4 linked regions of the Homo sapiens genome follow. The protein of the gene in region 4 interacts with the protein of the main gene of each other region in a pairwise test. Each region holds a gene or a part of one and is shown on either strand. Other genes may lie near its edges.

Evidence for each region.
Region 1: the proteins of CEP350 (region 4) and APTX interact in a two-hybrid assay, tested with the Homo sapiens proteins (one large-scale study listed by BioGRID and IntAct).
Region 2: the proteins of CEP350 (region 4) and TNIK interact in a two-hybrid assay, tested with the Homo sapiens proteins (one large-scale study listed by IntAct).
Region 3: the proteins of CEP350 (region 4) and CTNNA1 interact in binary tests that used the Homo sapiens proteins (3 or more experiments, as listed by UniProt).

What each region holds. Positions count from the first base shown.
Region 1 is NC_000009.12:32,991,239-32,999,468, reverse strand, and holds part of APTX (aprataxin), read left to right. Parts: intron 1-2,120; exon of another isoform or gene 2,121-2,226; intron 2,227-8,230. UniProt on the Homo sapiens protein: DNA-binding protein involved in single-strand DNA break repair, double-strand DNA break repair and base excision repair.
Region 2 is NC_000003.12:171,066,764-171,074,993, forward strand, and holds part of TNIK (TRAF2 and NCK-interacting protein kinase), read right to left. Parts: intron 4,561-8,230; coding exon 4,460-4,560; intron 2,235-4,459; coding exon 2,085-2,234; intron 1-2,084. UniProt on the Homo sapiens protein: Serine/threonine kinase that acts as an essential activator of the Wnt signaling pathway. Recruited to promoters of Wnt target genes and required to activate their expression. May act by phosphorylating TCF4/TCF7L2.
Region 3 is NC_000005.10:138,774,271-138,782,500, forward strand, and holds part of CTNNA1 (catenin alpha-1), read left to right. Parts: intron 1-7,652; 5' UTR 7,653-7,654; coding exon 7,655-7,759; intron 7,760-8,230. UniProt on the Homo sapiens protein: Associates with the cytoplasmic domain of a variety of cadherins. The association of catenins to cadherins produces a complex which is linked to the actin filament network, and which seems to be of primary importance for cadherins cell-adhesion properties.
Region 4 is NC_000001.11:180,092,317-180,100,546, forward strand, and holds part of CEP350 (centrosome-associated protein 350), read left to right. Parts: intron 1-297; coding exon 298-2,300; intron 2,301-3,206; coding exon 3,207-3,614; intron 3,615-3,721; coding exon 3,722-3,868; intron 3,869-6,546; coding exon 6,547-6,669; intron 6,670-8,230. UniProt on the Homo sapiens protein: Plays an essential role in centriole growth by stabilizing a procentriolar seed composed of at least, SASS6 and CPAP. Required for anchoring microtubules to the centrosomes and for the integrity of the microtubule network.

The sequences.
Region 1 (8,230 bases), on a different chromosome or scaffold from region 4:
AGTCGTGTATAAACAAGGCCAGGTTTCTCAGATCTCTGACACTTCCCGTTGCCGAAGAAAGAAAAACTCCTTGGTGGTCCATTATAACTTTAGCTGTCATCCAATAACTTTCTTTCTCTTTATATCCAAACTGTTTTAGTGAGTATTCTGAACTCTGCCTCCATTTCCTCACCTTTTGTTTCCTTCTGTATCTAGCTCTCAGACCCATCATTCCCCTGAAATTTCACCCCAAGGTCACCAGTGACTATTGTCAAACCAGATAAAAATTTTTTGATTATTACTGGATCTCTTTGCTGCTTTTGGAACTTGGTCATCCCTTTACTCCCTTCTTCTTTGCTTTACGTGTCAGTGCTCTCAGATGATTTATTCAACAAGTATTGATTGGGATACAGAGATGAACAAGACAGATAAATTGTTTTCTCTTAAGGAATTTACATTCTAGCTGTTCTCCATGTGCCTTTCTTACCAGTCATTTCTGCTATGGGTAGTCATTTTCCTCCTTCCCTAAAATGTTGGGTGTTTCTGTTGTTTGTGACTTTGGCATATAAACAATGAAAAACTGTTCTTTTTTTTTTTTTAGCTTGACCAATTTTTTTTTTATACTTTAAGTTCTGGGATACATGTGCAGAACGTGCATGTTTGTTACATAGGTGTATACTAAGTGCCATAGTGGTTTGCTGCACCCATCAACCTGTCATCTACATTAGGTATTTCTCCTAATGCTATCCCTCCCCTAGCCCCTCACCCCCTGACACGCCCCAGTGTGTGATGTTCCCCTCCCTCTGCCCATGTGTTCTCATTGTTCAACTCCCACTTATGAGTGAGAACATGTGGTGTTTGGTTTTCTGTTCCTGTGTTAGTTTGCTGAGAATGATGGTTTCCAGCTTCATCCATGTCCCTGCAAAGGACATGAACTCATTCTTTTTTATGGCTGTATAATATTCCATGGTATATATGTGCCACATTTTCTTTATCCAGTCTATCATTGATGGGCATTTGGGTTGGTTCCAACTCTTTGCTATTGTTAATAGTGCTGCAATAAACATACATGTGGATGTGAAGCTTGACCAGTTTTTATAAAATGATTATACCTATGTGACCACCATCCAGATTAGGTTACAGATACATAATATTACCAGCATTCAGAATGAAAACTGTTCTTTTCATTCTGTACACATTGCCTGAGTGAACCCATCAGCTGGCTTGGTTTTAACTACCTCCTACATGCCCCCAAATTGAAATTGTCAGCTTAGACCTCTCTGAGCTTTACCCTCACATCTGACTATCCTCCTGGACAGCTCTGCCTGCAAGTCCCACAGACACTTCAAATTCAGATGACTGAAACTGAACTCAGTGTCTTTCCTGGACTTAACTCTTATCACATTCATCACTAAGTCCTGATAGTTTTACCCCCTAAACATCTCTCAAATCTGTGCAGTCTTCTCCATCTCTACTGTTGTCCTTTTACCTGCAATATCATGGCCTTCTAACTGATTTCCCTGCTTCTAGGCCTGTTCCCCCATATCTTTTCTTCACATTACTCCCCTCCACCCCCAGATGGTCTTTGGAAACAAGTCTGTATCAAATTCCTGCTTAATCTTTAAAGATCTGTCCATGCATTCATCCATTCTTTTCTCTAATTCATTCAGCAAACATTCATTGTCTACTGGCTTGCAAAATCCATTGAAAGTTCTAAAGTTTGAGCTTCTCAGCCAGGGCTCTGCCTGTTCTGAACCCTGCCTGTATCTCCAGCCTCTTCTCTGCCTCATGCTTTAGGTTCCAGCAACACTGAATGGCATCTTCATGGGTACTGTGCTATTTCTTCTTTGTGTACTTGCCCTTGTTCTCTTTGCTTGGAATCTTCTCCCTGTTTCCTTTCTCCACCTCCTGCTCCTCACCTAATTAGGCTGCTCCTTTTCACCTAATTAACCCAGTTTATAAATGGGACTCAGTTATAAAGTTTAGGTCCACCTCCTCCAGGAAATTTTTTCCTGACACCTCCTTCCTCCCAATCTCGGTTGGGTACTCTAGCATTGTGCTTCCACCCTTTGCACAGAGCAATCATCATGTTTACCACATCTACTATTAACATAATTGTTTGTGTTTTTCTCCTCCACAAGATTTATTTTTTTTAGATGAGGTGTTGCTGTGTTGCCCAAGCTGGACTTGAACCCCTAGGCTCAAGCAATCCTTCCACCTCAGTCTCCCAAGTAGCAGGGACTACAGGTACGTGCCACCATGCCTGGCTAAGGCTGAGTTTTTTGAAGGCTGGGCTCATATATTATCTCTTTATTCCCAGTACTAGAATGGCACAAGATACACAGGAGTGTAGTAATTTTGACTGAACGATCAAATGAGTGAAGCCAAAAGTTATATGATGCAGTGGTTAAGAACCCATTCTTTGGAATTCAAATTGTAGTTCTGGCACATATTGGCTATGTGACTTGAACATGTTACTTATCTTCTCATCCTGAATTTTCTCTTCTCAGAATGGAGTTGTGAGTGTTAAAATGAGACCATGTAAGTAAGACATTTAGCATAGTGCCTAGCACATAGTATGCACTTGATAAAGGTGCTGAAAACCGGGGGATCCTGGAGTAAAGACTAGGCCTGGCCCAGGACAGTGATCTCCCGAAACCCCTCCTCATTGTTTTGTGAATGCGTAGGCAGTGATGCAGTCTGTTAGCAGGGAGATTATAATCTTGTTTGGAAAGTAGAATTACATCCACATTAAACAGTCAGAGAACTGTGAAGGTAGTTTGACCACATCCAATAATAAGATGTAGAGAAGAGAAGACAGCTCAATGAAGGCTTTAGGGAGGAGGTGAGGCTTGAAAGTTAAATAGGATTTGGGTTTTAGGAGAAAGGAATACCAGGAGACCATATTAAGAATGACTTAGGCCAGGTGTGGCTCCTACCTGTAATCCGTGCACTTTGGGAGGTCAAGACAGGAGGATTGCTTGAGGCCAGGAGTTTCAGACCAGTGTAGGCAACATAGTGAGAACCCCATCTCAAAATAAAATAAATTAGCAAGGCATGGTGGTGTGTGTCTGTAGTCCCAGCTACTCCAGAGGCTGAGGCTGGAGGACCACTTTAGCCCAAGGAAGTTGAGGCTGCAGTGAGCTGTGATGACGCCCTGCACCCAATCTGGGCAACAGAGTGAGACCCTGTCTCAGAAAAAAAAAAAAAAGAGCGATTTATTTGGGAGATGCTGTTCAGTATATTATACTTGAAGGGTATACATACAGGCATACCTCAGAGACGTGGGTTTGGTTCTAGACAACTGCAATAAAGTGAACATATGCATGTTTTGGTTTCTTAGTGCATATAAAAGTTATGTTTATACTATACTGTAGTCTGTTAAGTGTGCAATAGCATTATGGCTGAACAAACAATGTACACACCTTAATTAAAAGTACTTTGCTAAAAATTGCTAATAGTCACCTGAGCCTTCAGTGAGTTGTGATCTTTTTGCTGATGTAGGGGGGGTCTTGCCTTGACGTTGGTGGCTGCTGACTGATCAGGGTCATAGTTGCTGAAGGTTTGGATGTCTGTGGCAATTTCTTTTTTTTTTTTTTTTTGAGACGGAGACTCGCTCTGTCGCCCAGGCTGGAGTGCAGTGGCGCGATCTCGGTTCACTGCAAGCTCCGCCTCCCGGATTCACACCATTCTCCTGCCTCAGTCTCCAGAGTAGCTGGGACTACAGGTGCCCGCCACCACGCCCGGCTAATTTTTTTGTATTTTTAGTAGAGACTGGGTTTCACCGTGTTAGCCAGGATGGTCTCGATCTCCTGACCTCGTGATCCGCCCGCCTTGGCCTCCCAAAGTGCTGGGATTACAGGTGTGAGCCATAACACCCAGCCCTTTGTTGGCGTTTTGGTAATGTTCATTACATCTTCATCAGGAATAGATTTCATCTCAAGAGACCGTTTTCTTTGCACATCCATAAGAAGCAACTCCTCATCCATTAAAGTATGATCATGAGATTGCAGCATTTCAGTCACATCTTCAGGTTCTACTTATAATTTTAGTTCTCTTTATTTCTGCTATATTGGGAGTGACTTCCTCCATTGAAGTCTTGAACCCCTGAAAGTCATCCATAAGGGTTGGAATCAACTTTTTCCAAACTCCTGTTTATGTTAATATTTTGACCTCCTCCCATAAATTACAGATGTTCTTAAGGGCATCTAGAATGGTTGTATCCTTTTCAGAAGGTTTTCAATTTACTTTTTCCAGGTCCATCAGAAGAATCACAGTTGATAGCAGCTATACCCTTATGAAATGTATTTCTTAATTAATAACACTTGAAAGTCAGAATTACTCCTTGATCCATGGGCTGCAGAATGGATGTTGTTTTATCAAGCACGAAAACAATATTTATCTCCCTGTATAATATATCTCCATCAGGGATCTTGGGTGCATTGTCAATGAGCAGTAATATTTTGAAAGGAATCTTTTTTTTATGAGCAGTAGTTCTTAACAGAGATCTTAAAATATTCAGTCAGTCATGCTGTCGTCCAGGCTTTGTTGTTCCATTTATAGAGCACAGGCAGAGTGGACTGAGTATAATTCTTAAGGGCCTTAGGATTTCTGAAATGGTAAATGAGCGTTGGCTTCAGTTTAAAGTCTCCATCTGCATTAGTCCCTAACAAGACAGCCTGTCCTTGAAGCTTTGAAGTCAGGCATTGACTTCTCTCTACCTGTGAAAGTCCTAGATGGCATTTTCTTCCAGTAGCATCAAAGATCAAAGATCACTGATCACAGATCATTGTAACAGATATAATAATAACGAAAAAGTTTGAAATATTGTGAGAATTACTAAAATGTGACACAGAGACCTGAAGTGAGCACATGCTGTTGGAAAAATGGCACTGAAAGACTTGCTTGACACAGATTTGCCACAAACTGTCAATTTGTAAAAAATGCAATATCTTTCAAATGTAATAGAGCAGAGCACAAAGCAGGTATGCCAGTATGTATGTGTTTCTTGGGGAAGAGAGGAGAGAGAGGGATGGGCAAGTGGGACTAGTTCTGTGAAGAGGAACGGGAGGTGAAATACATAAGCACTGTGGAGTTACAGTATGATGAGCTTAACTTCAGGCCTGAGGGACTTGAGATGGATCAGGGCAGGGCAAGTTTCCAGGACTGTGGTGGATATTATGGTAGCCCCCCAGCCACGTGGAGTTATTTAACTATTAAGTAAAAAATGTAGTTTCTCTGTTGTACTAGCTACATTTTAGATGCTCGATTGTCACGTGGTGGGTAATTTATTGGACAGTTCAGGTTTAGAACATTTCCGTCATTGCAGAAAATTCTATTGGACAGCACTATTTGAGGTTACCTGATTTCTGGCCTTGTGTGGTCTATCAGATCACTTGAGTTCTTTAAGGAATAATCAGAATTTCTTTCTGACGGATCCCCTCAACTCTAGAATGAAAGATATAGAGCTGGGCCGGGCGCGGTGGCTCACGCCTGTAATCCCAGCACTTTGGGAGGCCGAGGTGGGCGGATCGCCTGACATCAGGAGTTCGAGACCAGCCTGGCCAACATGGTGAAACCCCGTCTCTATTAAAAATACAAAAAGTAGTCAGGTGTGGTAATGCACCCCTGTAATCCCAGCTGCTCAGGAGGCTGAGGCAGGAGAATTGCTTGAACCCATGAGGTGGAGTTTGCAGTGAGCTGAGATTGCGCCACTGCATTCCAGCCTGGGCAACAGCAAAACTCTGTCTCAAAAAAAAAAAAAAAAAAAGATATAGAGGTGAAAAATAGAGAATTGGGATTTATCCACCTAGATGTGAGAATGGATGGGATTGCCCAAAGAGAGGAACAGAGCATTCCATCGTAAGAAGAGCCATAGAAGGAAGGGAGAGAGAAGGCAGGAAAGAAAACTGGGATAATTATTACTCTCATGCAGAGAGTAAATAGCATTTGATAATTCACTTGTAAATATTTATTGTATGCCCGCTGTATGCCAAGTGTTAGATTAGGTGCTACAGATATATTGATAAGCGAAAATGGACATGACCTCTATTGTCATAGTTTTCAGTTTATGGAGTTTTACTGGAGGGACTGGGTTGAAGATTCAGGAACACCCATCCTTCTGCACTTGCCATATTGTAAAACACTCCATTTCTAAAAGTTGGAATTGGAGGCTGAAACGGGTGAAGTTACTATTTAAGGTTGGTTACATAACTGTTGTGCAGTCACTACTTCAGCTTCTCAGGAAGTAGTAAAAAGGAACACCATAACTTGAGAACTTTGGGGGAATAAAGTATCTGTATTGATGGAGGGCAGAAAGGGTAGTTCTTATTATCCTGCATCTGCCAGCCATGCTCTCTGCTGCTCACTGGATTCCTCTCTTGCCCTGCTCTCAAAATCTGTTCTCTTCTGGCTTCTCTTATTGTCAGTATGAGTAGTCAGTCACCACATATTTCCCAATGCCTAGTGAAGACATATTTCACTTCTCAGTCTGTTACCTGCTCATTCATCTGTTTCCAGCAAGTGCAAACAGATGCCCCTTGGAACGCATAGCATTTAAAAGTGGGACCTGCCCATAACACCATCATCATTTGAGGCTCCAGGTTTAGGATTTTAGATTTATAGCTGACTCTTCGTGCACCTGCATCAGCTCCTTCACAGAGACTTGCTGAACTGCCTTTTTGACCTCTCTGGCTCACGTTATATTAACAGCCTCCTCACTAATCTCTGACTCTGGATTTCTCCATGCTAGACTGCCTACACACAGCTGTTAAGTGTTCTTTGGATGCTGTTGTTTTATCTTACTGTGAAGCTCAAAACCTGGCAGTTGTCTCCTCTTGATTATGGTAAATGTAAACTTTTCAGCCTAGTATTCTTTCAACACCTCTGTCTTTTTTTGTGACTCTCCGAGGCAGCTCCTCTGGTTCAGCCAACTAAGTCTGCTTTTACCCCGACCTATGGCTTGCCATTGCCGAAATCTGTGTTGTCACTTGTGCTTTTTAAAATGGAATGGCCCCTCCCACTCCATTTCTTCTTTATCAGTCCCCTTGGCTCCTAGCCATCTCTAACCAGGAGGTTTCTGGAAGCCTGTACTGGCTAATACAGGACTTTTTACCTCCTTAGTACTCATATACTCGCACTAATCTTATTCATTTGAATTTGCATCTCCTCAGCTGTCATTTGCTCACTTTGCCTTGCATTGTCTTGTCTTTGCAGATGGTAATGAAACTGATTTTTAAAAATCGGGTTTCTTTTTTCTTTGCTTATGGACATGAAACTTGTGCAGAGGGCATATGTGCTGCCTTGACTATAGGCAGGTTTCCGGGAGAGGCATGTTAGAGGCTTGAGCACTGATAAGAGTCTGGAGTCTAGAGAGGCAATCTCTCTCTGCCCATAATTCCCTGTTTCACCTCATTGGGTGATCTCATCCTCTCTCTCTTTGCCTCAGCCTCTGTGACATGTTGATGCCTCTCAAATATATGCATTTAGTCCATTCCCCTCTCTTGAGCTTCATACCCACATATCACAGCTTGAGTCTTGGATCTTCCACAGGCAACTTAAAATAATTACATTTCAATATGAAATTGGTCCTTCTCTCTTCACTTTCCTTTTTATCCCCAAATTATGTCTCCTTGTGTATTTTTCATTTTTGTTAATGGGCATCTTCCAAATTTGAAGTCTTTGGTGAGTGTCTCGCCTTTTTTTTTTTTTCTTGAGATGGAGCCTTGCCCTATCGCCCAGGCTGGAATACAATGGTGCGATCTCTGCTCACTGCAACCTCCGCCTCCTGGGTTCAAGCAATTTTCCTGCCTCAGCCTCCCGAGTAGGTGGGAGGCACCTGCCACCACACCTGGCTAATTTTTGTATTTTTAGTAGAGATAGGGTTTTACCACGTTGGCTAGGCTGGTCACAAACTCCTGACCTCGTGATCCGCCTGCCTTGGGCTCCCAAAGTGCTGGGATTACAGGCCTGAGACACCGCACCTGGCCAGTGTGTCCTTTTATTCCTTTGTCATTCCCCAAATGTCATCAGTAATTAAGTATGTCTTCCAGATTTCTCCTGGCTCTTCTTGCTCTCCATCCCCTTTGCTTCGGCCATTGTTGAGGTCTCATCTCTCTTCTGAATTTCTTGTCTCTTTCTCTTTTACTGATAGTCCACATGGCCATAAGGGTTGTTTTTCAAAAGAATATCAGCACTTCCATTGTTTTGCGCGTTGCGTATTGCACAAAATTGTCACATTCACACTTTAGAA
Region 2 (8,230 bases), on a different chromosome or scaffold from region 4:
TTCTTTTAAAAAATAAAACACCTTGACTATTCATCTCTAACAACTGCAAAAAAGAGGTTTTTGTTTATTTTCATTGTCACCCTAAAGACTGAAATTTGCTTTAATTTAACCACTGACTTGTAAAATACCCTGGTAAATCAAACTTAGTCACTAGATTAAAAATTCAATTTACCTGTTCCTAAAAAGAGCATGTAAATCTATGGCACACCTACTATGTGCCAGTCATGGGGCCCTTTACATATATAATTTCTAGTACCTACAATAGCTCCCCAAGGTAGATAGCTTTGTTTACAGATGAGGAAACTGCATCTCAGAAGGGCTTTGTGTCTTAACCAAAGTTGTGCTAGTATTTGTTGGTAGAGTTGGGATTTGTGTATATCTTGCTGACGTTGAAATTAATGTGTTTTCTATTAGCACAACCACTTCCAAAAGAAGATGAGGAGAATGTAAGCCAGCTGAATCTAATGGAGATAGCTTAAGTGGGGTCAAAATGAACTACCAAAATAATCTGTGAAAAAAAAATATATATATAGGATTGTTTATCCGGGTGTCTAAATGCCAGAATAATTCATGGCTTGGTTAGAAAAAATATTTAGAATGACCACTCATTAAAAAAAATCATTATTGCCGCACACAGTGGCTCATGCCTGTAATCCCAGCACTTTGGGAGGCCGAGGCGGGCGGATCACGACGTCAGGAGATCGAGACCATCCTGGCTAACACGATGAAACCCCGTCTCTACTAAAAATACAAAAAATTAGCCGGGCATGATGGTGGGCACCTGTAGTCCCAGCTACTCGGGAGGCTGAGGCAGGAGAATGGTGTGAACCCAGGAGAGGCGGAGCTTGCAGTGAGCCGAGATCACGCCACTGTACTCCAGCTTGGGTGACAGAGCGAGACTCCGTATCCAAAAAAAAAAAAAAAAAAATCACTATTGAAATAAGTGTATATTAATTTGTTCTAGGAAAGGAAATGTGATGTTGTTGTGATCCCCTAGTTGAGAATGCCATGGCAGCCCAACATGTGCTTGACAGATTGGACTAAGAGAGTTGAGGATTATCATAGTTACACCTTAGCTGCCTCACCAGGAATGTGAGCTGTGAGTCCTTGTGTTCACCCACATCCACATGAGTTAAAAGTGGTAATAATGCAGCAATGAATGGCAGTCGTGTGTGTGTATGTAATATACTGAAACAACTTCTTTTAGTTATTGCGTTTCATTAGAATAAAGTCTTAAAACTCTCAAAATACCAGTCAGCGGTAGCTTCAAACATTCCTGATAAATAGTTTCTCCTGTGTGTTAGTCTTGGGATTACACACAGGACACACACTTTACACTACACTTAATCCTAATAAGTGAATCCATGTGCAGCATTTCCCTTTAACAGTTATGTTTCAAGCAATATGTCAGGATAGTAATATGAATATTTTAGGGCTAATAAGAAGATCTACAATTTGCAGGGCCCTGTACCAACTGCTTTAGATCCATTACCTCATTTAATACTAATGATAATCCTATGGGATAAGTCTTTTTATCCATATTTTACAGATGCGAAAGCTGAGGATTGGAGAGGCTGCCTACTGTGTCCATTACTGCAAAGCTAATACATGCTAGAGCCACTGTGTCTGACTCCAGTGTACCACACTGCCCTCAAGCTGAAGAGAGGAACTAAAAATAGCAAAAAAAGAATTTTCTCCAATAAATTAGTACCTGACCATTGGCTTTCTCTAACATAAAATGAACGAATTTCCCTTCAAAAACTGAATGTGGAAACTTGTCTACCGAATATAATTCATGCCCTTGAAAGAAATATGTCATATTCATTTTAATCTAAAGTCCAAAGAGACAACATGTAAATGCCAAATGATTTCTATTATGTATTCCCCAATTTTAGGAAGTCATAAAAATTAGTTAAATTTATATATTTTAGTTATTAAAAGCAGTATACTTAATGAAGAACGAAAGTCCATTTGCTGGTTAGTAAAGTGTGCATGACTTCTACTAAAACTATGCAAAACAAATCTCTTTCTACATGCAGGCTGTTGTACAGAGAGCCCTTGAAAGTCTACTTCTGAGTACTTACATGAGATGGTATGTAGATATCATAAGAGTTTCCTGAATCAACATCAATTACATGGAAACCAGTGTGTGAACCAAAAATAACCTTTAATCTTTGACCTTCTTCTACCGTGAGATCAACTAGCAGAGGCTTGTGCTGGAGATCTGCAAAAGACTTTAAAAATCACCCCATTAGTATCCGCATCACTCAAAGAGGCATCTTAATTTTTTTCCTTTAGCCACTGTCTAGAGGAAGTTAACTTCTAACTTTATTAAAGTGAAAAACTAGAAAATTTCTCTTTCAGTTTTAGGTCTGTTGATATTCTGGCCCTAGGAGGAAGGGTCTAGCATCCATTTGTGCCCCTTTCTCTACCCTTTGTCCTTCGGGGCAGTGAAGTTTAAGTTGGTGCACAGGTGTAAATTTTGATAGTGGTAATGTATATTAAAAACCTGGTGCCTGGGTATTGCTGTTTTTTCCTGTTTATTTCTGGCCTTTGTCCTCTGAAGAAGGCCCAGTCACCTCTCTGGCCCCCCTCTTTCCCATGTGGCAACCAGGCCCATCCACAGCAACTACCCTTTCAGAGACAGCCTGGGAGGGACAGCCAAGGCCGGCTGTTTTCTCAGCCTGTTTAGTATTAATGGGCATGCTCTGGTTTGGATTTTTCTTCAGTGAATGAGTAGGCATAAGATTGGCACTTTCTCTTAATGTTGGAATCTGAGACTTGGGTTTGGGTGGTAGAGAAAGAGGTGGGAGTGGAACATCACAAGATTGATGGCTTGCATTGACTATTTGGGTTTAACTAGAAAGCAAAAAGAGAGATCTTGCCAAGTTTGTCAAAGTTCTCTGTGTTTGAATCCAGAGCCCAAGCCCCAACTAACTGTCAAGTGTTCCTCTGCCATTTTCCTTTGCTATTTTTTAACCACGCTCTACCTTTGGGCCTTGAGATCTGGGAGAGCATTTGTGAAACTACAATTGCCTTAACTATAATGCCACTGCTACCTCTCAGACCCTTCTCTTCTCATCTTTTGCTAACACCATTCTGACAGCATGGGAAGCTCTAGCGTCCTGTCCTTGTCCTATGGGAAGGCTTGGCCTCTTGCCAGTTCCACTCTTTCCTGTTCAAGTCTTTGCCTTTGCTCTTCCCTCTTTCTGGGCTGGATAGGGTCTGTCAGAAAGAACATTTTGCACTCTCTCATGTGTCTCTGGGTCATAAAATAATGGCAATAACTTCAGAGCAAGAATGGGAATGGGATGTTGATTGAAAAGCTTTTGTGGAGATAGATTTTGGCAGAACAGGAGTACCACTTTGGCTTTTAGGAGTTATCCCTTGTTATTAGTAACCTAATGCATTCCAATTTTTTTCCATAAAAGTGAGGTCATGGAGGGGAGCCCATTTCCATTAATGAATCTATTTTCTTGAGCACATCAGAAGCCATCTGCCCTAAGGGAACAAGATAGAAGTGATTCAGCTCTGAAGTGGGCCTACATGGTGTTCCAAGGGCAGTTTTGCCCTTCATGAGAATGTGGCAGAAAATAATAAGGAGCCAAATGGAGATAACAGTCATAAAGGTGGGGAGAAAAAGTGAGAGCCAATGAGACATAAAGAAGTAGACAGACATAAGCTGAGAGAGAGAGAGACAGAGAGAGATCAGAGAGAGAGAGTGAGAGAAAACAGAAGATAAGTTCACTTGGGCTATGGATAGGTTATGCGGCTCTGAACACATCTGGGTGCCTGTAAGTACTGGTCCTCCTGGTATTCGGGTGTCAGCTTCATGAGCTGGGGTCAACAGGACTAGCATATCCCCATCCCACTCCTGGCAAATCTCATGAGTGACCAATCCAACCATGGTGGGTACAGACTTAGACAAGGTAAAAAAATGAAAAGGCAATCAAAATAGAAGAATGCAGAGAAACTAGGTCATTTCTGTAAGTTAGCACTGGGGACATATAAGCATCACCTGAGTTTTAGGGACTTCATTCAGAAAGATTTATGAGGATTAAAAGAGACTCAGTTTAACTCTGAGATTCAGTGCTGCCATTTGTCTGCCTTTTTCAAACAAAATATCAGGGAATACCCTGGTTTAGGTGGCTTTATAACAAATGTCATTGCATAAGATCATAATCAATGCTATGCCTACTAACCATTCTAAATGCCTCTTGAGGATGATGATTCATAGATCTCAAGGAGGAGGGCATACCCAAATTTTAATCTAATTTTATAGCATTTACAAATATTCAGTCTTTACTTTTGAAACAATAAACCCTAGAGTACCTACACTTTTAAAACAGGTTTATTATCTATATGAAAATTGGTATTGGTCTATATGGACTATTTTATTAATGGGTAGAAACGGAAAATTTTTAAAAAGCACATTTTAGATAATCACATCCCTGCTTACCTTAAATGCCATGAATTTATGATACGGTTTAGGAGCCCAAGCATATATTTCCACAGCATTCTTTAAGGCAATCACCAAAAATTTGATCCTTTCATATTTAACTGTAATAGAAAAATTATGAGTGAAAAAGTACATCAATTTACTCAAGTTCTTTGTATTAATATTAATGAATGTATAAGCAACAATATGTAAATTTAAATATTGATGTTGGGTGTCAGCTTCATGAAGGTGATATTCCTGGTGTGGGATTTTTTCATAGATACTGATTTAGCTTCCCTTAGCGAACTTTGGTTGGCAGAATACTTATGGCTTTTGCTTTATATTGAAGACTTTTCATCATCCAGAGATATAACTGCTTAGGACTGTCTTTAACACTAGGTCTTGATGTTGATATTCATTGTAATAAGAATGTGCATAATTTCCTTCATGTTAGCTTGCCTGGCTTTTACGTTCACCCATATTTAAGTAGCTGAGAGCAGATATGGCAAGATGGTAGAAAAATTAGCAAATGGGCAGATATAAAGGCTGCCATTTGCTTATTATTTATATTTGAATTCCAATTACCAAGTGAAATAATTGCTTATTTATGCTTCTAACGAAAGGGGGGTGTTAGGAGTCTTGGGTTCTGTTAGTGGCTTAAAGGGCTACGAATACTGACAAATCCTTTTACTCTTTAGAAAGATGGAATATTAAGCATTGTAAATTCTATGGACAGAAGCTTAGTTAAATGATTGAGTCCCCACAATGCTTTTGCCTACACAAAGTAGTACTCAATAAATGCTTATTGAATGGAAAAATGGAAGAACAGACTGTTGTCTGGCATTCTCTTCATTACTCTTACCTACGTGTGTGTCTCTGATAGAATAATAAGCAATGTTTACGGTGATGACCTTGAGAAATTGAACAATCCTTTAAGTGCCTTCTGAATCTTTTGCTGTTAAGTGTGGATTCTAATTCTTAGAGAATTCGTAATCCACAGTTGGTACACATGGCAGTCAGTTTCTTGGTAAAATATCTCAAGAAACAGAATATTCTGAGTCCTAAAGAAACTAGGTAGGAAAAATTTTAATATACTTAAATGACATTAAGTTTCCAGTTACTTGCTTTATAACTTTTCATGACATAAAGTGTTTATTAGACTATTTTTGCTGATCTCTTCATCTGAAACCTAGGAAAAGATCCACAGCTCTTGGCATTGAAGGAACATACCTCAAAATAATAAGAGCCATATATGACAAACCCAGAGCCAACATCATACTGAATGGGAAAAAGCTAAGAGCATTCCCCCTAAGAACTGGAACAAGACAAGAATTTCCACTCTTACCACTCCTATAGTATTGGAAGTCCTAGCCAGAACAGTCAGGCAAGATAAAAAAATAAAAAGCATCCAAATTGGAAAAGAGGAAGTGAAATTATCTCTGCTGATGACAGGATCTTATGCCTAGAAAACCCTAAAGATTCCTCCAAAAGACTCTTAGTGCTGATAACTTCAGTAAAGTTTCAGGACACAAAATTAATGCACAAAAATCAGTTACATCAATAATGCTCAAGCTGAGAATCAAATCAAGAGCTCAATCCCATTTATAATAACAGACACACACACACACCCCACACACACCCCTAGGATAATACATTTAACCAAGAAGGTGAAAGACCCCTACAAGGAGAACTACAAAGCACTGATGAAGAAACCACAGATGACACAAATGAATGGAAAAACATCCCGTGCTCATGGATAGGAAGAATCAATATTGTTAAAGTGACTATACTGCCAAAAGCAGTCTACAAATTGCCAATGTTGTTTTTTACAGAATTAGAAAAGACAATTCTAAAATTCATATGGAACCAAAAAAGAGCCCAAATAGCCAAAGCAATCCTAAGCTAAAAGAACAAAGTTGAAGGTATCACATTACCTGACATCAAACTATACTGTAAGACTGTAATAACCAAAGAAGCATGTTACTGATACAAAAATAGACATACAGATCAATGGAACAGAATAGAGAACCCAGAAATAAAGCCACATACCTACAACCAACTGATCTTCAACAAAGTCAACAAACATAAACAATGAGGAAAGGACACCCTGGGAAAATTGGCTAGCCATATGCAGAAGAATGAAACTAGATCCTTATCTCTTACCATATACAAAAATTAACTCACGATGGATTAAAGATTTAAATGTACCCAAAACTATAATAAGAAAACCTAGGAAAAACTCTTCTGGATATTGGCCTAGACAACATGTTTATGACTAACACCTCAAAAGCAAATGCAACAAAAACAAAAAAAGACAAATGGGACTTAATTAATAAGCTAATGAGCTTCTGTGTGGCAAAATAAACAATCAACAGAGTAAGGAGACAACCTACATGATGGGAGAAAATATTTGCAAACTATGCATCCAACAAATTTCTACAAGGAATGCAAACAATTCAACAAGAAAAAATCCTATTAAAAAGTGGGCAAAGGACATGAACACACATTTCTCAAAAGAGGACATATAAGCAGCCAACCAACAGATGAACAAATGCTCAATATCACTGAACATCAGAGAAATGTAAATCAAAACCACAATGAGATGCCATCTCACACCAGTCAGAATGGCTAATACTAAAAGGTCAAAAAAAAAAAAAAAAGATGGTGGTGAGGCTGCAGAGAAAAGGGAATGCTTATACACTGTTGGTAGGAATGTAAGTTAGTTCAGTCTCCTTGGGAAACAGTATGGAGATTTCTCAAAGAACTAAAAATAGAACTACCATTCTACCTAGCAGTCCCACTTCTGGGTAAATCCCAAAGGAAAATAACTTTTTTTTTTTTTTTTAAATCAAAAGGGCACCTGCATTTGTACATTTATTGCAGCACTGTTCACAACAGCAAGGTCATGGTATCAAGTTGTCCATCAATGGTTGATTAGATAAAGAAACTGTTGTATATATACAGCATGGAATACTATGCAGCCATAAAAAGAATGAAATCGTGCCCTTGGCAGCAACGTGGATGGAGCTGTAGGCCAATCTCCTAGGGTAAAATAACCCAGAAACAGAAAGTCAACACATGTTCTCACTTATAAGTGGAAGCTAACAATGGGGTGCACATGGACACAAAGCTGGAAATAATAGACACTGAGGACTCTAAAAGGGGAGTGGCAGGTTAAGGGCTGAAAATTTACCTGTTGCGTATAATGTTCGCAATTTGGCTGATGAGTTCACTGGAAGCCCAAGCCTCACCATTATGCAATATACCCATGAAACAAACCTGCATATGTACCCCCTGGATCTAAAATAAATTTTAAAAAGAAAAGAAAAAAAAATCCCTTCAGATTTTGCTGATTTTCAGGGTGAAAGAAGAAATAAATAAGTTTATATTTTTAAAGAAATTTAAAATCATCTTGAAAATAAAAACTTATCTAAGCACATATAGGCTCAGATAAATCAAGAAATATTTTAAATGACTCTTGGATATACAATTTGCTTTTCTTTTTTATTCTCATTTTATATTTTTAAAATTTCACAAGAATTTGAACATACTAGAATACTCGTGCTACAAGAAGATGTCAGTGCTGTTGTGGCTGGAATTTCATAGGGGAAGCTAAGTGGAAACTACAAGTGGTTCTTTGGATAACTAAGGCAAACAGTGTTTCTGAAAATTAAGCTGGTCTCAAGTTTTCTGATAGAGAATTACCAGATATTGCTCCCTGGTTAAATTTTACTTTAGATGTGTGGATATAGATCAGCCTACTGATGTTAGGACAATGAAGGGACGGCAATG
Region 3 (8,230 bases), on a different chromosome or scaffold from region 4:
CATCGTGGCCTCCCAAAGTGCTGGGATTACAGGTGGGAGCCACCACACCTGGCTTTTTTTCTAATATTAAATAATTTATTTTTGCACAGTAAGACTTCTTGGAAGTTGTCACTAACGTTAAAGTTGGGAGATTCCATGTAAAAATCTGCATCCCTGGCCTCTCTTGAAAAGTCAGATGGTCTGGAAACCCTGGATTTATGTGGTAAAGATTGCCTGGAGTTGATGAACAAGTGGGCACAAGCTTTCTGATTTTGAAGTCCTGGCTCCTCCTAGTGGTCCCTGTCCCCAGCCTGGAGAGGCCAGGTGTCATTTGCAATTCATTATTGTGCTGTTGTGCATATTGTGCTGTTGTGCCACCTTTTTTTTTTTGAGGCGGAGTCTCGCTCTGTCGCCCAGGCTGGAGTGCAGTGGCGCGATCTCGGCTCACTGCAAGCTCTGCCTCCCGGGTTCACGCCATTCTCCTGCCTCAGCCTCCTGAGTAGCTGGGACTACAGGCGCCCACCACCGCACCCAGCTAATTTTTTGTATTTTTAGTAGAGACGGGGTTTCACCGTGGTCTTGATCTCCTGACCTCGTGATCCGCCCACCTCGGCCTCCCAAAGTGCTGGGATTACAGGCATGAGCCACCGCGCCCGTCCTGTGCCACCTTTTTTAAGTTAAGAAGTAAGTGAAATTATTTGTACTCCAAAGTATCAAAATTAGGAAAACAAAAGACCAAGAATGTTTTTTGTTCAAGAAAAAAATGAAAGTCTTTTTTTGAGAAAGTGAAATAGTTATGTGTTGTACCTGTTTAATAATTAAACACAAATGTGACCACATATACCTAAATGTCTGCTTGCAGCTAGCTTCACTTAACTTTCCTCTTGGCTCTCTCCCTTTGCAACCCTGGAAGGTTCTGTGTTTTGTTTGTGTTAATGCAGTATCTCTGGAATGCTAGGATATGTAGGATCCATAGGGCAAATAGTTCTTCTGAAATGTCTTATCTGTGACATTTGATGACATTTGGTTGAGCTGTTGTCAAACCTTTAGCAATCTAGAGCATTCCATTTCCTAAGGTTCACTGACTTGGGTTGATCAGTTGAGTGGACAAATAACCTTTAAAAACCAAAGTGTAGGCCTGACGTCACATGAATGTAGACAGCAAATTCATCTACCTTCAATGAAACAGATGACTGGGACACAGGCATTCTGTGTTACCAGATTAGGCAAATGCAGGTTCCTTTTGGCACCCCTATCTCTAGTGATTCTAGATTTGATGACAGTATAATGACAGTATAATGATGAAAATTCAGAAATTTAACATTGATACAATGCTACTGTTTAATTCAGTACCCATAGTCAAATTTTGTCAATTGTCTCAATGTTTTTCCCTTTCTCAACACAATTTCAGTCCAGAATCACTGTGTTTAAGTCTCTTTAGCCTCCTTTAATCTGGAAATATTTCTTTTTTTTTTTTTTTTTTTTTTTTTGAGTCGGAGTCTTGCTCTGTCCGCCCAGGCTGGAGTGCAGTGGCGCGATCTCGGTTCACTGCAACCTCCGCCTCCCAGGTTCATGCCATTCTCTTGTTTTAGCCTTCTAAGTAGCTGGGACTACAGGCACCTGCCACCACACCTGGCTAATTTTTTTTTTGTATTTTTAGTAGAGACGGGGTTTCACCGTGTTAGGCAGGATGGTCTCGATCTCCTGACCTCATGATCCACCTGCCTTGGCCTTCCAAAGTGCTGGGATTACAGGTGTGAGCCACCATGCCCGGCCTCTGGAAATGTTTCTTTTTTTTTTTTTTTTTTTTTTTTATTGATCATTCTTGGGTGTTTCTCACAGAGGGGGATTTGGCAGGGTCACAGGACAACAGTGGAGGGAGGGTCAGCAGATAAACAAGTGAACAAAGGTCTCTGGTTTTCCTATGCAGAGGACCCTGCGGCCTTCCGCAGTGTTTGTGTCCCTGGGTACTTGAGATTAGGGAGTGGTGATGACTCTTAACGAGCATGCTGCCTTCAAGCATCTGTTCAACAAAGCACATCTTGCACCACCTCAATCCATTCAACCCTGAGTGGACACACCACATGTTTCAGAGAGCACAGGGTTGGGGGTAAGGTCACCGATCAACAGGATCACAAGGCAGAATAATTTTTCTTAGTACAGAACAAAATGAAAAGTCTCCCGTGTCTGCCTCTTTCTACACAGACACGGCAACCATCCGATTTATCAATCCTTTGCCCGCCTTTCCCCCCTTTTCTATTCCACAAAACCGCCATCGTCATCATGGCCCGTTCTCAATGAGCTGCTGGGCACACCTCCCAGACGGGGTGGTGGCCGAGCAGAGGGGTTCCTCACTTCCCAGTAGGAGCGGCCGGGCAGAGGCGCCCCTCACCTCCCGGACGGGGCGGCTGGCCGGGCGGGGGGCTGACCCCCCCACCTCCCTCCCGGACGGGGCGGCTGGCCGGGCAGAGGGGCTCCTCACTTCCCAGTAGGGGCGGCCGGGCAGAAGCGCCCCTCACCTCCCGGACGGGGCGGCTGGCCAGGCGGGGGGCTGACCCCCCCACCTCCCTCCCGGACGGGGCGGCTGGCCGGGCGGGGGGGCTGACTCCCCCACCTCCCTCCCGGGCGGGGCGGCTGGCCGGGCAGGGGGCTGACCCCCCCACCTCCCTCCCGGACGGGGCGGCTGGCCGGGCGGGGGGCTGACTCCCCCACCTCCCTCCCGGACGGGGCGGCTGGCCTGGCGGGGGCTGACCCCCCACCTCCCTCCCGGATGGGGTGGCTGCCGGGCAGAGACGCTCCTCACTTCCCAGACGGGGTGGCTGCCGGGCGGAGGGGCTCCTCACTTCTCATATGGGGCGGTTGCCAGGCGGAGGGTCTCCTCACTTCTCAGACGGGGCGGCTGGGCAGAGACGCTCCTCACCTCCCAGACGGGGTCGCGGCCGGGTAGAGGCGCTCCTCACATCCCAGACGGGGCGGCGGGGCAGAGGCGCTCCCCACATCTCAGACGATGGGCGGCCGGGCAGAGACGCTCCTCACTTCCTAGATGGGATGGCGGCCGGGAAGAGGCGCTCCTCACTTCCTAGATGGGATGGCGGCCGGGCAGAGACGCTCCTCACTTTCCAGACTGGGCAGCCAGGCAGAGGGGCTCCTCACGTCCCAGACGATGGGCGGCCAGGCAGAGACGCTCCTCACTTCCCAGACGGGGTGGCGGCCGGGCAGAGGCTGCAATCTCGGCACTTTGGGAGGCCAAGGCAGGCGGCTGGGAGGTGGAGGTTGTAGCGAGCCGAGATCACGCCACTGCACTCCAGCCTGGGCACCATTGAGCACTGAGTGAACCAGACTCCGTCTGCAATCCCGGCACCTCTGGAGGCCGAGGCTGGCGGATCACTCGCGGTTAGGAGCTGGAGACCAGCCCGGCTAACACAGTGAAACCCCGTCTCCACCAAAAAAATACAAAAACCAGTCAGGCATGGCGGTGCGCGCCTGCAATCACAGGCACTCGGCAGGCTGAGGCAGGAGAATCAGGCAGGGAGGCTGCAGCGAGCTGAGATGGCAGCAGTACAGTCCAGCTTCAGCTCGGCATCAGTGGGAGACCGTGGAAAGAGAGGGAGAGGGAGACCGTGGGGAGAGGGAGAGGGAGAGGAGGGAGAGGGAGAGGAGGGAGAGGGGGAGGAGGGAGAGGGGGAGGAGGGAGAGGGGGAGGAGGGAGAGGGGGAGGGGAAATGTTTCTTAATCTGTCTTTTTTTTTTTTTTTTTTTTTTTAAACAGAGTCTTGCTCTGTGGCCCAGGCAGGAGTGCAGTGGCACCATCTCCACTCACTGCAAGTTCTGCTCCCCCAGGTTCATGCCATTCTCCTGCCTCAGCCTCCCGAGTAGCTGGGACTACAGGCGACCGCCACCACGCCCGGCTAATTTTTTGGTATTTTTAGTAGAGACGGGGTTTCACAGTGTTGACCAGGATGGTTTCGATCTCCTGAACTCGTGATCCACCCGCCTTGGCCTCCCAAAGTGCTGGGATTACAGACGTGAGCCTCCGCGCCCGGCTGCTTTGACATTTTTCAAGACTACAGCCAGTTATTTTGTAGATCGTCTCACGCTTTGAATTTGATGTTGCCTCATGACTAGTTGAGGTTATGTAATTTTCAGGCGAAATAACACAGAGGTGATGTTGTATCCTTCTCAGTGCATCGTGTTAGGAGATACGTGATGTGGGTTTGTGTCCTTATTAGGGACAGTAATTTTGATTACTTGGTTAAGGTGGCATCTCAGGTTTCTGGACTGTGAAGTTACTATTTCCCCCATCTGTCATAAATAAATAATCTGTTGGGAGTTACTATGACACTAGATCACGCTACTGAGAAACTGAATGCTAATCTACTTGGTTAGCATTCTTTGATTCTTGCCTGAGGCAATTAATATTATGGTTCCTGAATGCTGATTTTTCTAAATACATTGTTCTTTCTACATTTATTAGTTTGTTTCCTATTGTTTGGAAGAACTTTTCCTTCTTTATTCATATTAGCATGGACTCATGCATTAGTCAATGGATCATACTTTGTTCTATCTAATCTCCACTAAAGCTCTCTGAAGAAGGCAGTGGTTGGTAGTCTTTTATGAGGGATCTAGTTCAAAGTTACGTTTTTTTTTTGAGATGGAATCTTGCTCTGTTGCCTAGGCTGGAGTGCAGTGGCATGATCTCGGCTCATTGCAACCTCTGCCTCCCAGGTTCCAGCGATTCTCCTGGCTCAGCCTCATGAGTAGCTGCGATCACAAGCAACCGCCACTACGCCTGGCTAATTTTTGTATTTTTAGTAGAGAGAGGGTTTCACCACATTGGCCAGGCTGGTCTCGAACTCCTGACCTCAGGTGATCCACCCACTTTGGCCTCCCTAAGTGCTGGAATTACAAGCATGAACCACCATGCCTGGCCAGTTTTCACCCAGTAGTTTTGACATTCATTGCTAATCCTTGGCTGGATCAGTTTTTACCAGTGGGGGTTGCAAGATGGTCATTTTCTAATTCTATTCTAGATTCATGGTAAAGAAATTCCCTCCCCATACCCTTTCTTTTGAGGATCCCTATGGTCTTAAGGATATTTATTTAATTATTTAGTTACAGACAGTTACAGTCATTATTCTCTTTGATAGTTGTCCTAAATTTGGCTGATGGGAGCCCTTGCTTCCTGTGTCTTTTGATATGATCTTGTTAGTCTTGTCCCCTTTCCGCACAATACAGTGCTTCAGACCTGGAACTTTGGTTTCTATTAATGGGAAATGGTCCGTTTTTTAAAAAAAAAATAAGTAGAAATGGGATCTCTCTGTGTGGCCCAGGCTGGTCTCAAACTCCTGGGCTTAAGTGATCCTCCTGCCTTGGCCTTCCAAAGTGCTGGTATCACAGGCATGAACCACCATGCAAATGGTATTTAATAGAAATAAATACTTGGGCACTGATAACACTGGTTTTTTTTTGTTTTTGTTTTTTTTTTGAGACAAGAGCTTGCTCTGTTGCCCAGGCTGGAGTGCAGTGGTGCGATCTTGGCTCACTGCAACCTCCACCTCCCAGGTTCAAGTGGTTTTCCTGCCTCAGCCTCCTGAGCAGCTGGGATTACGGGCGTGTACCACCACACTGGACTAATTTTTGTAGTTTTAATAGAGACGGGGTTTCACTATGTTGGCCAGGCTGGTTGTTTTGTTTTTTAATTTGCCAACATTGTTTTTAAGAGTAACATTGTAGCCCGTTGTGTCATTGTTACATAATTTATTGAGTGATCTGTTGTTTGAAATTTAGGTAATTTATAACTTTTAATGTTTATATAAAGCAGTGTTGTGAACATCATTGTATCCCAGTTTTTACATGTTCCTTAACTTTAGAATAAGATTTTAGCAGTAGATTTTCTGGGTCATACAAATGTACTTTTTAAAGATTTTATTTTATTTATTTATTTTATTTTTTATTTTTTTGAGACGGAGTCTTGCTCTTTCGCCCAGGCCGGACTGCAGTGGCGCTATCTCTGCTACTGCAAGCTCCGTCTCTGGGGTTCACGCCATTTTCCTGCCTCAGCCTCCCGAGTAGCTGGGACTACAGGTGCCCGCCACTGCGCCTGGCTAATTTTTTTTTTGTATTTTTAGTAGAGACTGGGTTTCACCGTGTTAGGCAGGATGGTCTCAATCTCCTGACCTCATGATCTGCCCGCCTCAGCCTCCCAAAGTGCTGGGATTACAGGCGTGAGCCACTGCGCCTGGCCAAGATTTTATTTTTTTAATTTTTATTATTATTATTATTTTTTAAGATGGAGTTTTTTTCTTGTTGCCCAGGCTGGAGTGCAATGGCACAATCTCGGCTCACTGCAGCCTCTGCCTCCCGGGTTCAAGCGATTCTTCTGCCTCAGCCTCCCGAGTAGCTGGGATTACAGGCGTGCACCACCAGCCTGGCTAATTTTGTATTTTTAGTAGAGACAGGGTTTATCCTTGTTGGTCAGGCTGGTGTCGAACTCCCGACCTCAGGTGATCTGCCCGCCTTGGCTTCCCAAAGTGCTGGGATTACAGGAGTGAGCCACCACGCCCAGCCTTTAAGCTTTTAAATGTCTACCAGCAGTTTGTTGTCTAGAAAGTTTATATTAGTGTTTACCTCAGCTTCATGCCTTTTCTTTTCTTTTTTTCTTTAATAATTGAAGGCACTACTTTTAGAAGAAAAGACTAACTGTTATTTTCGTTGATGTTTTCTCCCTATTCTTAAAGCCGCTGTCTGACAGAAGTTTCTCTTGACACTGATACAGTGATATTTGACTAAGTGTGATTTGAAATTTCTTCTGGCTATGAGTGATAATAGCTGTGGGTGCAGAGGGCAGCTGATTTAAACATTATGTTTTAATAGAATAAGACAAGTCCTTCTCTAGGAATCCATCAAAAAATGAAGTGAAGCATACCTTTTAGATACTACTGTACCATGAATGTTGTGGAGTAGGAAAAATCAGGATCTTCTGTATTCGTTTTTGAAGCAGTGTCTTTGAAAGTAGCTTTTGGCCGGGTGCGGTGGCTCACGCCTATAATCCCAGCACTTTGGGAGGCCGAGGCAGGTGGATCATGAGGTCAGGAGATCGAGACCATCATATCCTGGCTAACACGGTGAAACCCCGTCTCTACTAAAAATGCAAAAAAATTAGCCGGGCGTGGTGGCGGGCCCCTGTAGTCACAGCCACTTGGGAGGCTGAGGCCAGAGAATGGCGTGAACCCAGGAGGCGGAGCTTGCAGTGAGCTGAGATCCACCACTGCCCTCCAGCCTGGGCGAAAGAGCAAGACTCTGTCTCAAAAAAAAAAAAAAAAAGAAAGTAGCTTTCATTCACTTTAGCTTTTCATCTTGTTTCTAAAGGTGGGGCAGATAAAGTGAGTAGGAACTGAGGTAGGAAGTCTTGGTGCTAGAGAAGCCCAAAGGGAAACATTCTGTGTGTTTGGGAATGCCCTCTTGTAGTACCCCTCCTATTTGTAAGCCTGAAATCATTAAATATTAAGAGGTTGTAAGGTTTACTGGGTCTTCATGTGTAGGCTAGTTAGAATTTTTTCATCTATAGTGAATATAGCTTTCCTGATGCAAAAGTCCCAAAGTAGGAGAAGATTTGTTACATATTTCATGTTTGTGTTTGATGTTTGCCTGACTGACTTTTTGTTTCTTATTTAGAAATGACTGCTGTCCATGCAGGCAACATAAACTTCAAGTGGGATCCTAAAAGTCTAGAGATCAGGACTCTGGCAGTTGAGAGACTGTTGGAGCCTCTTGTTACACAGGTAAGAATCTGAAAACACAAATACATTGTAACATGGTTCTATAGCACAGGCCTGGGTAACAACCATAAGAGCAAGGTTATTTAGTTCAAAGCCTTAATTCCAGTACTTGAGTTTAGGTGACAGTTCTTAGATGATTTGAATATTGATGCATGGGTTTAGTTAACCCTTGAGAACGCTGCTGCTGTCGTTTTCTTCAGTCTTATTGCTAGTAACGGGTCCATGGTATGTAGTGCAACTTTGCAAATGTTTGTGCTTTGCAGATACTTCACCTTTCTTCAGAGGGGAAACCCAAGAAAGGTGGAGTCTGGATCCTTGATTGTTAAGGTCTCTCACTCTGCTTAACACACCTTTCATTGTGTGGGATTAATTAGCAGGTAATTCAACTTGAGGGTTTAGGTTTGGTATGCTACAAATGTCACAATGTTAGGGTAGTTCATAAACTGTTAGCAACTAGCTGTGTACTTTTAGTGT
Region 4 (8,230 bases):
TTGAGGATGAATGTGCAAAGCAATGGTTCCATCAACTTAGATACATTTTTCTTCACTTTATAAGTTAAGACAGTGCTTAAGAAATTATTCCAAACTTTAGAATTTTCAGTAATTTTAAATGTTGATACAGATGATATTCTCTTAAAAGAAAAACTTATAAAGTAGCCAAAACAGGTCATATTTATTGACTAGAGGGGTTTTTTTCACTAAAATTTGGCTTTTCTCTAAACTTTGGTTCACAAAATTGAAAGATAGTGATTAAATAATTTTGATGTGGTGATTTGTTTTTTCTTTAAGATGCTTCACTGTCTGGTTCTGAGAGATCAGTATCAGAAAGGTCTTTATCTGCATATGCAAAGAGAGTAAATGAATGGGACAGTCGAACAGAAGATTTTCAGACCCCATCTCCAGTTCTCAGATCATCAAGGAAAATCAGAGAAGAATCTGGAGATTCTCTAGAAAATGTACCTGCATTACATCTTCTCAAAGAATTAAATGCCACTAGTAGAATTCTTGATATGTCAGATGGCAAGGTTGGAGAATCTAGTAAAAAATCAGAAATAAAAGAAATAGAGTATACAAAATTGAAGAAGAGTAAGATTGAAGATGCCTTTTCTAAAGAAGGTAAATCTGATGTCTTACTGAAATTAGTCCTAGAACAGGGAGATTCATCTGAAATTCTTTCAAAGAAAGATCTTCCTTTAGATTCTGAAAATGTTCAGAAAGACCTAGTTGGATTAGCTATTGAAAATCTCCATAAAAGTGAGGAAATGTTGAAAGAGAGACAGTCAGATCAAGATATGAATCATAGTCCAAACATCCAATCAGGAAAAGACATTCACGAACAAAAGAACACAAAGGAAAAAGATTTGTCTTGGTCAGAACATCTTTTTGCTCCTAAAGAGATACCATACTCTGAAGATTTTGAAGTGTCTTCTTTCAAGAAAGAAATTTCAGCTGAATTGTACAAAGATGATTTTGAGGTGTCATCTTTGCTGTCACTCAGGAAAGACTCTCAGTCTTGCAGAGATAAGCCACAGCCAATGAGGAGCTCTACAAGTGGAGCCACTAGCTTTGGTAGTAATGAGGAAATCAGTGAGTGCCTAAGTGAGAAAAGCCTTTCTATCCATAGCAATGTTCATTCTGACAGGCTGTTGGAACTCAAGTCCCCTACTGAGCTGATGAAAAGTAAGGAGCGCAGTGATGTGGAGCATGAACAGCAAGTTACTGAATCCCCTTCCTTGGCTTCAGTTCCTACTGCAGACGAGTTATTTGATTTCCACATTGGTGATAGGGTGTTGATTGGAAATGTTCAGCCAGGAATTCTTCGATTCAAAGGTGAGACTAGTTTTGCTAAAGGATTTTGGGCCGGAGTGGAGTTAGATAAACCTGAAGGAAATAACAATGGAACATATGATGGTATTGCATATTTTGAGTGCAAAGAAAAGCATGGTATTTTTGCTCCTCCTCAAAAAATATCTCACATTCCAGAAAACTTTGATGACTATGTAGACATTAATGAAGATGAAGACTGTTACTCAGATGAACGATATCAGTGCTATAATCAAGAGCAAAATGATACAGAGGGTCCAAAAGACAGAGAAAAGGATGTCAGTGAATATTTTTATGAGAAATCCCTACCTAGTGTGAATGATATAGAAGCCTCAGTTAATAGAAGTAGAAGCCTTAAAATAGAAACAGACAATGTACAGGACATTTCTGGGGTACTTGAAGCCCATGTTCACCAGCAGTCTTCAGTGGATTCACAGATTTCTTCAAAGGAAAACAAAGACCTCATTTCTGATGCCACAGAAAAGGTTTCCATCGCTGCAGAAGATGACACTTTAGACAATACCTTTTCCGAAGAATTGGAGAAGCAACAGCAGTTTACAGAAGAGGAAGACAACCTATATGCTGAAGCTTCAGAAAAGCTTTGTACACCACTTCTGGATCTTTTAACAAGAGAAAAAAACCAACTGGAAGCCCAGCTGAAGTCATCACTAAATGAGGAAAAAAAGTCAAAACAACAACTGGAAAAAATCAGCTTACTGACAGACAGTTTACTAAAAGTCTTTGTAAAGGACACAGTCAATCAACTACAACAAATCAAAAAAACCAGGGATGAGAAAATCCAGCTTAGCAATCAGGAGCTTCTTGGTGATGACCAAAAGAAAGTAACACCCCAAGACCTATCCCAAAATGTTGAGGAACAGTCGCCAAGTATTTCAGGTTGCTTCTTAAGTTCTGAATTGGAAGATGAAAAAGAAGAGATTTCCTCTCCAGATATGTGTCCCAGACCGGTGAGTATTTCGTCTAGAAAAAGTATCAGTATACCTTTTGACACTTTTAACAAGGCAACTTACCTTGCCTATATAGTACATTTTAATTCTGTGACTCCTGATAGGTTTTTTTTCCCTTGACGTGTTGTTTATTAGAGAAGGATCACTGTACTGGTTTTTAAAGGCCTTGTAGCTGTTTTTCCTGGCTGAAGTGTAATTGTCCTCTATTATGTCATGAGTAGTCAATATAGGGTTGTCACAAGCACTGGCAGGTTTTGGGGAACTAAAACATCCATTTAAACTGCTGAGTTGACAACCCCTGTACTGTCCATAGATTACATCTCCTTCCAGATTCACTGAACAAATTCGTTCCATGGAGCTTTCCAGTGGCTCACCACCCAATTCTTTTTTGCCTGTGAAATTGTTTACATATCTACTCAGTCATGGTTGGCCTGCAGAGGTTAGCAGTTGTGATGTTGATTCTGGTAAAATGAAATAGATCCACTATGACATGCACTCAGACCATCAGCTTGTTTATGTTGCCCATGGACAGTTGAGCAAAAGTAATGACTTTGAGTAACTTGAGCCAGATGGTCACCAGAGGTGAGAAATTTTATATCCCATTTCCATATCCCATAGACAGTTCTTTAGAAACAGAATAATGATAATACAAAAAGCGGGGAGAGCCCTAATCAATAAACATTTTATAAAAATTCAGTTATATGCAAGGTTTATATAAGTAGAATTGAGGGAACAGGATAACTTTTTCTTAGATTGTTTATTAGTAGCCACCATATTGTTTTTTATTCTGCTTACTTATAGAGAAATATTAGATATATAAATAATGCATTTACTCTGTCTTTTTTTAAAAAAAAATGATATGAGGTCCCTAAATGGTGCTCTGTTTGAATGGTTCCATTTCTATAGGAGAGCCCAGTATTTGGTGCCAGTGGGCAGGAAGAACTTGCTAAGAGACTTGCTGAACTTGAACTCAGCCGGGAGTTCCTGAGCGCGTTAGGAGATGATCAAGACTGGTTTGATGAAGACTTTGGTTTGAGCTCTTCTCACAAGATCCAAAAAAATAAGGCAGAAGAAACCATTGTACCTCTAATGGCAGAACCTAAAAGAGTAACCCAACAACCATGTGAAACATTATTGGCAGTCCCCCATACTGCAGAAGAAGTAGAGATTCTTGTACATAATGCAGCAGAAGAACTTTGGAAATGGAAAGAATTAGGCCACGATCTTCATAGCATCAGTATTCCTACAAAACTGCTTGGCTGTGCCAGTAAAGGTCTAGATATAGAAAGCACTAGTAAAAGGGTCTACAAACAGGTAGGTGAAATAAAAGGATAATTTTAGTTTTTAAACTTTTCTCCCATTGTCTGAAATTTGGATTCTTAGCCATTTTGTTTTGTTTTGTTTTGTTTTTCTCTATCAAGGCGGTTTTTGATTTAACAAAAGAGATTTTTGAGGAAATATTTGCTGAGGATCCCAACTTAAATCAACCTGTCTGGATGAAGCCATGTAGAATCAACTCTAGTTATTTCCGACGAGTGAAAAATCCAAATAACCTTGATGAAATCAAGGTAAACTGCAAACTATAAAGTGTCTTCTTTTTTGACTTGCTGTTCATTTACACATATCTGTAAATGTTGTAAAAGCAGGTGCTCTTCTGTATGATTAACCTTTGTGTCTTCAGGACCTGTTCCATAGTGGGTATTCAATAAAGATTTGTTGACTTACTGAATCCATGAACAGTGGAGGGATTGGAATGAGTGAAAGGGCTGAATCCTCAAGTTTGTGCAAAAAAAAAAAAAAATTCTTTTACCAGTCATTTTCTCTATATACATAATTATAATATTTAAGAAAAATTAGGAAATACCTAGGGAGATAAATTATTGCAACTAATAGGAGTTTTAGGTAAGTTTTGGGGGCTTTAGAGATAGGTATAATGTTCTAAAAGTACATATGAATACGTGTCATATATATGTCTTTTCAATATGCCAGCCCTGGACACATAGGTGTTAACTTCTTTATCTTTGACTTTGGAGGTTTCAAATTGGTAATGTGGTTTTGAACTATGTAGGATAGTAATGTGATACGTAAAAATATTTATTTTGTTATCTAAGAAACCTTTGTAAACCTTTGTCCAGAAGCTACAAGGACTATGAACTTTAAAGTCACATTGCTGGCAATCTGCTCTGCCTAGTCACATGTTTCTTTACGGCAAAGGTTATATTTCCAGAGCAGTGATTCTCAACTTTTAATGTGCATGTGAATGATCTGAGGATCTTGTTGAAATGGAGATTCTGATTTAGTAGGTCTGGAGTAGGACCTGAAATTCTGCATTTCCAACAAGCTCTCAAGTCATGCTGGTCCTGCTGGTCCTGCTGGTCCTGCTGGTCCCAGGACCACGCTGAGTAGCAAAGCTTTAAACTTGTATTTCCCAAACTTATTTGATCACAGAAAGCCTTTAAAAATATTTTATACTTATAGAACACCAACAGATATTTATGAGATGGGATGTATGCTTACCTCAGGGGTTGGCAAACTATGGCCCATAAGCCAAATCCAGGCCCCTGTATGTTTTTATAAATAAAGTTTTGTTGGACCACAGCCATACCTAGTTGTTTACATGTTACAACTACATGTAACTACAACAGTGGAATTGAATAGTTGTGACAAAGACCACATGGCCCGCAAAGCCTAAAATATTTACAGTCTGATTTTTTACAGAAAAAATTGGCCATCCCCTGGCTTAAAGTAACTAGCTTTTTAAAAACACATTGTATACTCCATTCCTTCTACCCTTTCACAATTGAAAATGCTTGAATGCTATGTGTGTCTGTGAACAGGTAGGGAGTGATGGAATTTCCGGGCACGTTGGTACTTTGAGAATCTTTCCAGGTGATTCTGATTCATAAATGTGTCCCTTCCCCTGTTAAGAACATTGTTTTTTTAACAGAACAACCATAAAAGTAACAAAATAAATTATTAATAACATTAAGTTGAGGTAAGACAAGATATATAATATATACCAACAATCAAACTACATGCATCAATATAGCATACAATAAATGCCCACTAATTTTAATATTGACATAACATTTTGTAAAGTTTTTAAGGGTGATAGTTCAAATATTGTTAGTAGTAAAATTATTATGCTTCTCATACTGAAGTGTTGATATTTTTTAATTTAACATATTTGAGTTTTGGTGCTTCAAAATAAACTATCCCAAAGTCTTTTGCTTTTCTCACATTACATTGTCCCCAAAAATTTCTTTGAGATTTTTCCAATTCAGAGATTTATTTTATGCTTTCTTTAGTAGTTTTGCCAGCTTGAAGTTAGCTAATGGTAGTTTTGTTGTTGTTTTTTCTTTGTTTTTCTTGAGGTGGAGTTTCACTCTTGTTGCCCAGGCTGGAGTACAATGGCGTGATCTCAGCCCACTGCAACCTCCGCCTCCTGGATTCAAGTGATTCTCCTGCCTCAGCCTCCTGAGTAGCTGGGATTACAGGCATGCGCTACCTCACCCAGCTAATTTTGTATTTTTAGTAGAGACAGGGTTTCTCCATGTTGGTCAGGCTGGTCTCGAACTCCCGACCTCAGGTGATCCGCCGCCTTGGCCTTTCAAAGTGCTGGGATTACAGGCGTGAGCCACCGCACCCAGCATGGTAGTTCTTAAGTAAACTCTAAAGTGATTTTTCTTTGCAGATTAATCAGTGGGTTTTACTTTGTTGTTGTTGTTGTTGTTGTTATTTTTAGATAAGATCTCGCTTTGTCACCTAGGCTGGAGTGCAGTGGTGCAATCTCAGCTCACTGCAGTCTGGACCTCCTGGGCTCAATCAGTTCTCCCACCTCACCCTCCTGAGTAGCCAGAACTACAGTCATGTACCACCATGCCCAGCTAATTTTATATATTTTTTGTAGAGATGAGGTCTCTCACTATGTTGCTCAGGCTGGTCTCAAACTCCTGGGCTCAAGTGATTCTCCTGCCTTGGCTTCAGAGAGTGCTGGGATTACAGACGTGAGTCACCGTGCCCAGCTAGGTTTTACTTTTATATGTTGCGTAAGTGAATAAAGTCTCAGCATTTGGAATGCTTTTCCCTTCAAATTGCTATGTGGAACTGTAAGTGGAAGAAATTTGTATGATAATTTTATTGTAAATATTATATTCTTATCGTGAATCTGTTTACTGCATTGTAAACACATGAAACTCAGGAATTTCTGTTGTTTGTGTTTCGTGTATTTGTCTTGTTTCCACAGAGCTTCATAGCAAGTGAAGTACTCAAGTTGTTCAGTCTTAAAAAGGAGCCAAACCACAAAACAGATTGGCAGAAAATGATGAAATTTGGAAGAAAGAAAAGAGACCGAGTGGATCATATCCTGGTCAGTGTATACAACCAAACTGTTTTTATTTTGACCATATCTTTTAAACTCAGAATGCAGTTAGATTCTAAAAGGAAAAGGGATAGACTTATTCTTAAATCTATGGTATTAAAATCTTAAAGCCTTTACTTGCTGCATTTCTACCCCTCAGTTTTGTTAACTATTTTCTTTTGTACTCAGTAGATGAACATTTAACTTGATCAATAGTATTTTATGTAGAACTTGAGAAATTTACTCAAATGGAAGCAAAGTTTAAGGTAGTGAATTGAAAAGAGACCAGTGTGGACTCTGGAGCCTGACTGCCCATGTTTAAATCTCTTGATGTGTAATCTTGGACAAATTTGTCTAACATTTTTGTGCAAAGTGAAGGTAACAATAATAGTACTTACCTGATAAAATTATTAAGAAAATTAAATAAGTATATGTGTAAAGCACTTAGAATAGTTCCTCATATACAACTCAGTAAATAATAGCTGTTACCTCATCATCATCACTATTATCATTATCCAGAACATTCCCTGGATAGGATTTATTTGGTTTTGCAATATATTTCTGTAACATTAGGAAAGTGTTTATCAAAAAAGAAAAAAAGAAAAATTCAGGTTTCACTCTAAACATTTTAATTCTGGACCTTTTATCTATATTGACATTTATATAATGAAAAAAAGTGTAATACTTAAATTTATCACCGTTCTCATGTATGTACCTCTCTAGTGTTTCATTTACTCAGTAATAACTGTACTAGATAACATTTGCTTAGTATTTTATAGTTTATCATTCTTATGCCTTATTTGATTTTTTTTTTTTTTTTTTTTTTTGAGACACAGTCTCGCTCTGTCACCCTGGCTGGAGTGTGGTGGCACAATCTCTGCTCACTGCAGCCTCTGCCTCCCAGGTTCAAGTGATTCTCATGCCTCAACCTCCCGAGTAGCTGGGATTACAGGCACCTGCAACCATGTCCAGCTAATTTTTGTATTTTTAGTAGAGATGGGATTTCGCCATGTTGGCCAGGCTGGTCTCAAACTCCTGACCACAAGTGATCCGCCTGCCTTGGCCTCCCAAAGTGCTGGGATTACAGGCATGAGCCACCGCGCCCAGTGTCTTATGCCTTATTTGATCCTCACGATAATTACATGAGGTAGGAAGAACTAATGTTATCCTTTGTTTTACAAATGAGGTGTCTTACGCCTTATTTGATCCTCACAATAATTACATGAGGTAGGAAGGACTAATGTTATTCTTTGTTTTACAAATGAGGAAATTTAGATTCAAAGATGTTAAGTGACTTGCCCAGTAAAATAAGAGACGAGATTTTAATCAACTAATTCTTCATAGATCTTCACATCTCAAGAAAGTGAATTTGTTCTCCTATTTCTATCATGTCTTAAAGTCTGAATTGTTATTAATTTCCAAGTTGTTACTTCCTTTACTTCTTAGGAATTAAAGAAAAAAGCATATTAAGAGGCATTCATCTAACCTATCAGCTAAATTGATGATATCCCCTATAAATCACCTCTGTATATACATTGAGTCAAAAATTGTGCTAATTAAGGACTGATGT